Homo sapiens: one gene and its partners. The protein of the gene in region 1 interacts with the protein of each later gene in a pairwise test. Each region holds a gene or a part of one and is shown on either strand. Other genes may lie near its edges.

Region 1 (3,753 bases):
TATTGGGTGGTAGGGCTTTTTATTGTTGACTTCTGGAAGCTTTTGGAATATTAAAGAGATTAGCTTTGTCTATTACATGTGTTGGGACTATTTCTTCCTTGTTAATCATTTATCTTTTGACTTTGCTTATGGTGCTTTTTGCCGACCAAAGCTTTTCATAGTCATGACTTCTGGATTTCAAGTAATAATGTAGAAAAGCCTTCTTTACTCCAATACTAAAAAGGAATTTCCCCATGTTTTCTTCTTGTCCTTTTATCACATTTATATTTTATTTTTATTTTTTTTTTTGAGACGGAGTCTTCCTCTGTCGCCCAGGCTGGAGTGCAGTGGCCCGATCTCGGCTCACTGCAACCTCCGCCTCCCGGGTTCAAGAGATTCTCCTGCCTCAGCCTCCAGAGCAGCTAAGGTTACAGATGTGCGCCACCACGCGCAGCTAATTTTTGTATTTTTAGTAGAGACGCGGTTTCACTATGTTGGCCAGGCTGGTCTTGAACTCCTGACCTCGTGATCTGCCCGCCTCGGCCTCCTATAAGTGCCGGGATTAAAGGCGTGAGACACCGCGCCCATCTGTTTTTATTTCATAAACGACTGAAAAAAGACCAGAGCCAGGCCTCCTCCCTTCCATCACTAATCTTTATTGCAATAACTCCCTCCTTTGTCGTCCTGTACCTAGCTCAGACCAGACGACACCCCAAACACAAACACCAAGACACGCACCTCTTTAATACGAAATAATAAACATACCTCCCCCAGAGAGACACCCTGAACTAACCAAATCATTGTAACTATACACTAAGCCTTACATAAAAATACTAACATTTGGCCGGGTGCGGTGGCTCACACTTGTAATCCCAGCACTTTGGGAGGCCAACGTGGGTGGATCACCTGAGGTCACGGGTTCGAGACTAGCCTGACCAACATGGTGAAACCCCCGTCTCTACTAACACAAAAATTAGCCAGGTGTGGTGGCGGGCGCCTGGAATCTCAATTACTCAGGAGGCTGAGGCAGGAGAATCGCTTGAACCCGGGAAGCGGAGGTTGCAGTGAGCCAAGATCGCGCCATTGTACTCCAGCCTGGGTGACAAGAGCGAAACTCCGTCTCAAAAAAAAACCAAAAAACCCCCTAACATTCTAGTACACTTCCCTGAACTCTTGTCTATAGAAATGATCCCGCACTTCTACACTTGAAACGCTGACTTGCATTCTCTAAAATCTGCACTCCTGAGCGGGCGCCCGCAGCCTCCGCACTGGCAAAGAATCTGTGAGCTGAGCTCCGCCCCGCTCCGACCCCGTAGTGGCGGTCACCCGGGGTGTGCTCGACTCCCGGGTGCGGCCTGAGGATCCGCGCCCTGGCGTCTGGGCACACACAAAGGTTTCTGCGGCGCGGGACTATCTCAAAATATAAATTAAATACTTTTTTCACAGACAGTTAATAAAAAAACTACAGCTACACCCGGCCCTTTCGCCAACTGGGACCGGCCCACTCCGCGCTCGCGCTCGCGCTCGTCCATCCGGGCGTCTCGAGGGCGCCGGCGGGAGCGAGCACGCTGCGCAGTCACGTGCCCGGCGCGCCCCCGTCGCGGCGCGCTCAGGCGGAAGTGAGGTCGGCGGCTCCGGTGGCTGCGCAGCGTCGGCGGGGAGCGCGGGCTGCGGAGAGGCGGGCCGGGCCAAGCGGAGCCGAGCGAGCGGGAGCGCGGCGTCCGGGAGGCGGCGGAGACGCGGGGCTCGGAGGGTCAGCCTCTTATCGTAGCAGGTCTCCTCGGCACGCCCCCCTTGTTTCGCCCCACGGCCAAGCCCGCCGCGGGCCGGCGTGCGCTGGTCACTGAGGCCCAGGTCGCCGCCGCGGCGCGGTGAGTGGGGGCGGGCAGCGGGCGACTGCGCGTCCAGGCCGGAAGTGCGGCGCTTTGTGCGGCCGGCTCGGGGCGGCGCCAAGGTCGGCCCGCGGCTCGGGGTCGCTGGGCGTCTGGACCGGCCTGGGCTGCGCTTTGTGCCGCGGGCAAGGCCGGGCGGGGGCCGGGGGCGGAGCTCGGCCGGACACGTACGCGTGCAGGTGCGGTCCGGGCGGCGCGGGCCTGCCGCCTAGGTGGCCGAGGTGGCTTCGCGGCGCGGGGCGTTCTCCTAAAGGTCGGGGTCACAGCCGTCAGGAATGCGAGCGTGAAACCCGGGGGCAGAGCTTTGTGACAATAGTCATTTCCAATGTGTAACTGCTCACTTTGTCTACCCACGAAGTAAAGATAATTTTTATTTTTATTTTTTTGCTTGGCGGAATCTGAGCGTTCTCCTTCCAGCTTGAAAAGGCACGATTTAAATTACAGATTTTTAAGATTTCCTTCAGAAAGGACGTTTCGTGGCCTAGCCTGGGTTAACTTTGAAAAAAGAGTGCAGTGCGCCTTTACGACGTCCACAAATAAGGGTATTTCTGTTTTATAGTGTATGTGAACATGAAGTGTGCATCTCATGGGCTGTTTGAGTTAATGTTTAATCATTAAAGTCAAACAAGAATATTTTGCAGTGTTTTCGCATGCAAGGAAGCTTTATAAATAAAAAGGTTTATATAGTTTCCACTCCTTAAACTTTCAGGTCATCCTTGTGTAATTTGAGATCACTTTTCTCAAATACTATGGATGAAAGATTCTAGATTAAATAAAACTTTTTGGTTTTGGCAAAAACAGGACACATTTTTAAGCTCTTGTAGATGAAGGAGTGGGTTATTTTTGCTTTGACAGCCAAGATTTGAGCAGTGTAAGGCTATTCTAATTTTGAAGCTAGTGTTGCAGAAATTGTGAAGATCTTGCTTCTCTTTGTCTTTACAAAGCAGGCTTACTTTGGTGGAGTTCCGTAGTTTAAAGGGAAATTATACCCAAGTTGTCTTAGACAGTTTCTTTTCCTGGATCAATTGAGCACTTTTTTTTTTTTTTTTGAGACGGAGTCTCCCTCTGTTTCCCAGACTGGAGTGCAGTGGCGCCATCTCGGCTCACTGCAAGCTCCGCCTCCCGGATTCACGTCAGTCTTTTGCCTCAGCCTCCCAAGTAGCTGGGACTGCAGGCGCCCGCCACCACGCCTGGCTAATTTTTTTGTATTTGTTTTTTTTTTTTTTTAGTAGAGACGAGGTTTCACCGTGTTAGCCAGGATGGTCCCAATCTCCTGACCTCGTGATCCGCCCGCCTCGACCTTCCAAAGTGCTGGGATTACAGACGTGAGCCACCGCGCCTGGCCGAGCACAATTTTAAAAGAACAGTACACCAGCGTAATAGAGTAATAGTTTTTTCATGCCTTGTGTCCAGTCTGTTAAGTCTGTCTGATTGTACTGTGCAGAAATACATGAATTCCTCCCAGTAAAATGCAAACCCAAACCTTGGTAATGAAGGTAAAGTTTGGGGGAGAGAACTTCTTTTCTTTTTTCTTTTTTTTTTTTGTGAGACGGAGTGTCGCTCTGTCGCCCAGGCTGGAGTGCAATGGCGTGATCTCGGCTCACTGCAACCTCCGCCTCCCGGGCTCAAGGGATTCTCCTGTCTCAGCCTCCCGAGTAGCTGGGATTACAGGCACACACCACTGCGCCCAGCTAATTTTTTGTATTTTTAGTAGAGACGGGGTTTTACCATGTTGCCCAGTCTGGTCTTGAACTCCTGACCTCAGGTGGTCCACCTACGTCGGCCTCCCAAAGTGCTGGAGACACCACCGCGCTCGGCCTATATGCTTTATTTTTTATTTATTCATTTATTTTTTTGAGACAGTTTTGTTCTGTCGCCCAGG
Region 2 (3,753 bases), on another chromosome or scaffold:
GACAGGAGAATCGCTTGAACCCGGGAGGTGGAGGTTGCAGTGAGTCGAGATTATGCCATTGTACTCCAGCCTGTGTGACAGAGTGAGACTCTATCTAAAAAAAAAAAAAAATAACAAACCTAATGAATATGATTGGTCCCTTATCTCCATACAAATATATGTTTCTTGATACCCTTCTCCTAGAGTTATTATAAAGATTTTAAAAATAATCTATATGATTAATTTAGCACAGCGCTAAACATTGGTTTCAAATATGCCTATGCACTGATCTTTACAGAAATGAGTCTGTGTGTATCTGTAGAAAAGGGCAGGAGCTATGTCAAGCCATAGCAGAGTAAATCACTGACTTAAAACCATACAGAATGCTAATCTTACTGATATTGCAGTTGCAAAGAAAATCATCTGTTGGCTCATTGATGTACATAGGGTCTGCTTGGGCAATTCATTCTCATGGGAAAAAGCTCTCAAAATAAATACGAAACCTAAATAGTCAAATGGAGAAAGGAAAAGGAGGGCCTGTCTGATGAGCTGGCTGATACTGGAAATGAACAGAATGTCCATAGGACCAAGACATGGGGAAAAAAGTGAGGCGTGACTAATCTCACCCTGCTGCCTCCAAGGAGTATCGGCCTCTGACATCATCCCTTGAAACTCTCATTGTAGAGTCACAAGGCCCATTTTGAGCAACTCTAGAAGAAAGTAACTAGAAGGCAATCTTTGGACATAATGGTAATGCATAATTACTGAATGACAGAAAACACTGGAACACATGTCATTTCACTTCTGACCCAGCCATTTATTTTTATGGGAAGAACAACAAGAGAATGGCAATGAAATTACAGCAAGAACACTTTAGCTTAAGAATTGAGTAGAATTTTGTTTTTTAACTGATATTAATAAAAAATGTAAAAATGTTACCTTTTAGCATTTAATAATCATATTTTAATCAATATTGATTCTAATGTGTTTTCTGGAAATTTTTAAGATGACTTAGAGTTTCTATAACACTTCATTGTCCCATTTTCCTTTTAATTTAGTTTTTGTTATTTTCAAAATTAATAAGCTGTATCATTCTTTAAATTTTGAATCTTATCTTTCTTAAATTTTTTACTCGGAGATTTTAAAAAATTTTTTTGGAGGTAATGTGTGTGTGTGTGTGTTTTTTTTAAGAGACATTTACAATCAGTGTAAAAAGTATCCCACTATTGTGAAATTGAAAGAAATACCTGGTATACCATGTTGCAGTCTAAATCAGATAGTGAGATTACTGGGTTTGCTTTTAGTGGATTTTATTAGACAATGTATCAATATTATCATTTTCTTTTTTGTCTAGAAATAAACTCGTGTGTATGTATGTGTGAGTAATATTTTTAACCCCAAATGAAAATTGAACCAAAATTACAGTTGGGCATTTTGTATGTGTTAGACTGTCAGTGTCAACATCATCCAAATATTGGTTAACATCACCTGTATACCAGGTAATATTGAATCCAAACTCACCATATAGTGTTAATAGCATAAAGTATTGTATTTTCTTCACTCACCTGAAATGTAATATTGCATAGAAATAGCCCATGCAGTTTTTCATATGTCTTCTTCATCCAACAAATGTGGCTGTGATTAAGTACTCATAAGCAAAGAATCATGTAATGAAAAAAATTTACATACATATGAAATAAGCACACTGGTTCTCAGGCATGAAACAAAGCATATCATCTCTTCCTTTGCATCAAGACTTTTTTTTCTTAAACAAGCAAGACACCGAATAGTGATTTTGAAGTATAAACTTCTTCATAAACATATTTTCAACTCAATATTGTTTCAATTGTAAATGTAACAGGTTTTTTTTAAAGGGCTGCATAGATCTTTGCAAACTTTATATTCATCTCAAGAGACATATTGACTGGGAAAATATTAAGTTCCTTTTAATTTTATTTTTCCCTGGAGCATTTTAAAACTTTGTTCAATCTTTATGGAGTGCATTTTCAAAAATAGATTTCTACTTTCAGTAATAATGTCTTCACTAATCATGGTACAGTACTTCATAAATAGACCAATAATATTTTTGATAAATAATTGATTCATTATTCCCATTTGCGCATGCATATTCAAACTGCATAAGCATCTATAAAATAAGATTGGCTCCATGTACATATAAATGAGACTAAAAGCATACAGAGAAATGGTATATACTCTCCGTACTTTTGACATCTTAATGGTGGATTTTAATAAGGGGAATTCTATATCTCTGGCACGTACTTGTGGTTGGGGCTCAACGGTTTTCATAATAGGATTCTAGCCCCTCGGGAGATGGAAGTTAGGAGCAGAATGAAGGCTTTGGTCCCAAAGATGGGAGTTGTGAGAGCAAAGTGGCAGATGTGTGGTAGCAAGGATGAACTATGTAGAATAAGGAGCCTCTCTAAACTCTCTGTATGGGTTTTAAGCTTTAAACATTGATGGCTTTCATTGTGGGTATGACAGAAATATTTTACAAATGACCATCACCTAAGGCAAATTGAATTTTCTTCTTACAACTTACACGACTTTCCTTCTTGTCATTAATAGTATTTTTCATATGTTGCAAAGAGACGATTGTTAATTCAAGAAAACATAGTTACCTCAATGTCAGTAAGGCTGATTATAGGTGGTATTTTTGGATAGATTGTGATTTTAACAAAGTCATTCAATTAAAAGTTTCCTGAGGTTGTTTGAAGACTTAAAGTGTGCAGTTCCATTCTTTGCCTTTTGAAGAACACCATTTCCTAGATTTCCCCAAGTGTTTTGAGATCGATGGAGATGTTGTGAGAGAGGGAATTGACTGTGAATAGCTGTGTGACCACAGGATGAATGGGATGAATGGTCATGATCATAGCTCTGGTGCCCAGCTGAAGGGGAGAGAATAGAAGAGCTTGCAGTGCTGCTGCCACAGCCTTTAGGGGAGAGGAAATGTTCACACACCACAGTAATGCCGAATTATGTTAACCAAATGATATATGTGGTGGTTGACTGAAGTTTTTTAAGCTTTCCCTGAGGCAAGAAAACTATGGCCTGATATTTATAGAGAGAACATAGATAATGTCAGAGTTTTGAATATTCTTATTTTAAAATACTTCTTAAGATATCCTCCATTCATACCCTTCATTCAATGGAAAGATCTAGCAAGGTTCTTTTATGTGGAACTCAGTATAAAAATACTCTCTTAAACTCACATGACTAACATCTTTAGAAAATGTCTTCTTCTGTAAATAAAAATAATCCATAGGGCACTTCACAGACTGTTAGCAGTATTAAGCCGTAGATAATTTGAATTAATGAGTTCAAATACTTCATTTTCTTAGTGAAAGAAAGTAAACCATGGAAAGATCAATGGGTCCATATTGGGTGATAAAATGAGATAGGGTAAGACCTAGGATCAGAGCTGGGCTCCTTGGTCTCCCAGCCCAGTGCTTGTTTAGTTATACAACACTGTAGGCAACAGGCTACAGGTGGAGGCACTGATCTTTCCACAAACGGATTTGACTGTGTCACTTACTAGATTAAAACCCTTCAAAGCCCATTGAGACCCTGCCACCTCAGAATAGAATTTACATTCAGTACCATGGCCAGCAAGTCTACACCCATCTTGGTCCTCATTTCAATAGTCTCAATTTTTCTGTTGCCACCTTCTGCCTATGGAACTCTTTTTGTCTTTCAAATGCTGCTGCTGTCATATGTGTGTGTGTGTGTGTGTGTGTGTGTGTGTGTGTGTGCGTG
Region 3 (3,753 bases), on another chromosome or scaffold:
GGCTTCTTTTTCCACAGCCTTCACTTTTCATATTTAGAAAGTGTTTGACTCTTTCTTAAATAGAACTCTTAAATTTAAAGAAAAGAGGGAGAGGAATTTGTTCCGCTAAGGCATGTATGAAAATACACGCTTTGGAGTAAAGTAAGTTCTATGCAGGAGAGAATGAGGTTCCAGCACTAACGAATGGTATGTGTGCCACACCCTTGCCCTTGTGGATGGAGGAGGGGGTGTCTGCCACCTAAGCACAAAAACAGCGTACTGAATTCAAGTGGACTGGGTATCTTTCATTTCAATTTCTCTGTCTTTTATTTGTGTGTTCCATTCACGTTTATTTTCCTTTTGTTTTATAATTTTCTTTCTTTTTTTAAAATTTTCCTTTTTCTCAGGCATCTTTTTTTACCTTGACTTGATAAAATAAAAGATTTAGTAGTTCCCATGCTAGAGCAGTCACTTGTATTTTACTTCCTAGTTTCTCATTTTTAGCACTATTTTTTCATTATCTGTTTATCTTCTTTTACCTTACAGTTTTTCAGTTCATGTAGTCTCTTCTTCTGCTCAGAACTTCTCCCGTTTATTTTATTTTATTTTATTATTTTTTATTATGCTTTAAGTTCTGGGAAACATGTGCAGAACGTGCAGGTTTGTTACATAGGTATACACGTGCCATGGTGGTTTGCTGCACCCATCAACCCATCATCTGCATTAGGTATTTCTCCTAATGCTATCCCTCCCCTAGCCCCCAATCACCTGACAGGTCCTGGTGTGTGATGTTCCCCTCCCTGTGTCCATGTGTTCTCATTGTTCCACTCCCACTTATGAGTGAGAACATGTGGTGTTTGGTTTTCTGTTCCTGTGTTAGTTTGCTGAGAATGATGGTTTCCAGCTTCATCCATGTCCCTGCAAAGGACATGAACTCATCCTTTTTTATGGCTGCATAGTATTCCATGGTGTAATTGACAAATGGAATCTAATTAAACTAAAGAGCTTTTGCACAACAAAAGAAACTATCATCAGACTAAACAGGCAACCTACAGAATGAGAGAAAATTTTTGCAATCTATCCATCTGACAAATGGCTAATATCCAGAATCTACAAAGAAATTAAACAAATTTACAAGAAAAAAAAAAACAAACCCATCAAAAAGTGGGTGAAGGATATGAACAGACACTTCTCAAAAGAAGACATTTATGCAGCCAGCTTCTCCCATTTTTTAAGAGTTTTATTTTATTATTATTATTATTATTTTGCTGGTGAGATAATGTGGGAAACTATTCTGGTTTGCTCTCTTTCTAAAATTCTTGTTGTATTCTTAATTTACGTGGCTTGTCTTTTCTCTGGACTGAGTTGCCTCAATATGGTTTGTGTTATAAAAAATCTATTAGATGCTTTTAGTGTGTTGTAGACATTTTCAGTCGGATGTGTTATGTGGTGTATTTCTTTCCTTTTGGTAAAGATGGAATATCTAAATACGAAGAACCTTTAACTGCCAACTTCTACAAATGAACTGAGCCTTCATGGACAAAACCTGAATCAACTCAACCTGATCAGCAGTTTGGCAATATGGCAATATTTCATTGTTCTTTTGGTTCCTACCTAATTCTCACTTCAGTGCTTAGGATCCTTTTTTAAAAAAAATTGTGGTAGGGATGACACCATGCATACAGTGAATTAGGCCTCATATTTGCATAGGAATTGTAGACTCATTGGGAGCCAATAGCCTACCACCGCTTTACAGTACATTGTAAAGAGGTTTGTCCATGTGTCCAGTGACTTCTCAGATAATGTTTTTAGTAAAGATTTACTGAGAGAGTTCAGATTGGTTCAGTCCTATCACCACTTTTTCTAGAAGTGTTGCAGTGAGGTTCTTCTAAAAGAATTGTTGTGTAGGAAACAGCACACTGCCTAATCTTTGCATTGACAGCACTGAAAACAAGCAAGGGTCGGAGAGATTCTTCACTGTCTTCATTATAATTGTTGCTTATGGGTACCCTGTTATATTCTGATTTCTGTTGCAATTTTACTTGTTCTCTTTTGTTATTCCACCTACTGAATTGAGGAATTACATTTCAGTTATCTCTTCCAAAGAGGATCTTCATCTTAAATTTACTCGCTTTGGTGGGCACATGTATTTTCCCTCCAGCTGCAGCCATCTTGTAACAATTTTCAGCTATAAAGAATTTTCCTTGATTTAATTTATATTTTCAACTAGTGATAAAATACATTGCTTCTATTCCAGTTTCACTGACTACTATGAATAATTATTCAACAGCCTCTCCCTAATCCTCCAACCCCAGCCTGTTAAGCAACGCTTTGTCAGGAGTTTAAATTCAGTGCAAAGAAGTAAGATTTCCACAGTTTAACCTGCAGTTCAGTGAAGTAAGTTCCTTCTAGAATACTTGGGGAATTCTTCCTTCTTCAGATCAAAATCCTCCAGCTGGAGCAAATGGGAGACTAATAAATCACTTAACTTTTTGTAATATTTTTTTAAGGAAACCATCAGATCTCTGAATTTACCCACGTTGGAGTCTATTTATGAGTGCTGCTATTACTGCTTGAGTCTATGGTATAGTCCCTTAAGTTTGTTTAAGATCATTATTAATTTGTTCTAAGTCAGCCAAATCAACAGAAAGGTAAATATGCACCAATAGAAAGTATTTTTCAAAAGTTAAGCAGTTTTTGGTAAAAACCCCAAACCTTATTAATCTTCTACAGATGACAACTCACATATTGCTGATGATTAAAGATACACATGTGTTACAATAGGGCTTCAGACTCACAGCCCATCTCTCTTTTTCTTGATCTTTCAGTAAAATCATAATGCTAAACTGGTGACTTCACAGTCATTTCCTTGGCAAAAGATTAATATCACAAGCACAGAGGAAAAAAAGCCCCCACTTACACACAAGTGTCTTCAATAACAGTGGGAGAAAACAGAATACTACTGGCAAAGTAAATTGCTTTTCTTCTTAAAACTTTTCCCATCCTGCCCCATGTGTCCAAGTGTAAAAGCCCTGCTTTGAAAATGCTTCATTTCATAGATCAAACACTTAAGAGAAAATGACAATAATAAAGCCCAAACATCCTAGGAATAGCTAGGAGAAAAACCTCTAAGACAGTGGGAAATACATCAGTGCAGAAAAATGTAACTGTGTTGAATACACTATTTGTGTTTCTTATGTATACAATTGAGAACTGCAGTCAGATTTTAAGGAATTATGTTAAACTTGATGCTCAAACACTTATTTTAGGGGGTCCTTTCCCTTGGTTCTCTGCAGGTTCTTTAGCTGCCAGCTTTTCTGAGTGGGAGGCTTAGGTGATAAAGGATTGTTGTGAGAATTCAAATTTTTTCTTTTGAACAATCATCTGATGCTCTTCAGAATGAAGACCAGTATATTCAGGTACATTTACCTGTGAAATAAAGAAACACATAACCATTAAAAACAACATTCAAAATGCACACTAAAGATTCTATCCTGAAATAAATCATTAACAGCAGGTCTCAGAGATTTCTTCATCGAGCAACCAGTTTGTTTCAGTTACAACCAGGTGTACTGAGAAACCCCAACACATTGCCAGTTGGCTGGGGCCTGGGAGGCAGAGCTTGCAGGCAGCTAAAGAAACAATGCTCCTCTGGCAACTTCCATTTATCCTCCCAGCTTTCCCAAGGCTAGAAGCTGCAAAGAATGGGCTCCGTGCGCGTACTCTCAGGGAGGAGCCTTCAAGGCTTGTGCGCTTTTCAAAGAAACCGGGTAA

What was found.
Region 2: the proteins of FAM168B (region 1) and VGLL3 interact in binary tests that used the Homo sapiens proteins (3 or more experiments, as listed by UniProt).
Region 3: the proteins of FAM168B (region 1) and MSRB3 interact in binary tests that used the Homo sapiens proteins (3 or more experiments, as listed by UniProt).

The regions. Positions count from the first base shown.
Region 1 is NC_000002.12:131,091,311-131,095,063, reverse strand, and holds the start of FAM168B (myelin-associated neurite-outgrowth inhibitor), read left to right. Parts: upstream 1-1,603; 5' UTR 1,604-1,850; intron 1,851-1,901; exon of another isoform or gene 1,902-2,413; intron 2,414-3,100; exon of another isoform or gene 3,101-3,255; intron 3,256-3,753. UniProt on the Homo sapiens protein: Inhibitor of neuronal axonal outgrowth. Acts as a negative regulator of CDC42 and STAT3 and a positive regulator of STMN2. Positive regulator of CDC27.
Region 2 is NC_000003.12:86,970,480-86,974,232, reverse strand, and holds part of VGLL3 (transcription cofactor vestigial-like protein 3), read left to right. Parts: intron 1-3,753. UniProt on the Homo sapiens protein: May act as a specific coactivator for the mammalian TEFs.
Region 3 is NC_000012.12:65,456,636-65,460,388, forward strand, and holds part of MSRB3 (methionine-R-sulfoxide reductase B3 isoform 2 precursor), read left to right. Parts: intron 1-3,753. UniProt on the Homo sapiens protein: Catalyzes the reduction of free and protein-bound methionine sulfoxide to methionine. Isoform 2 is essential for hearing.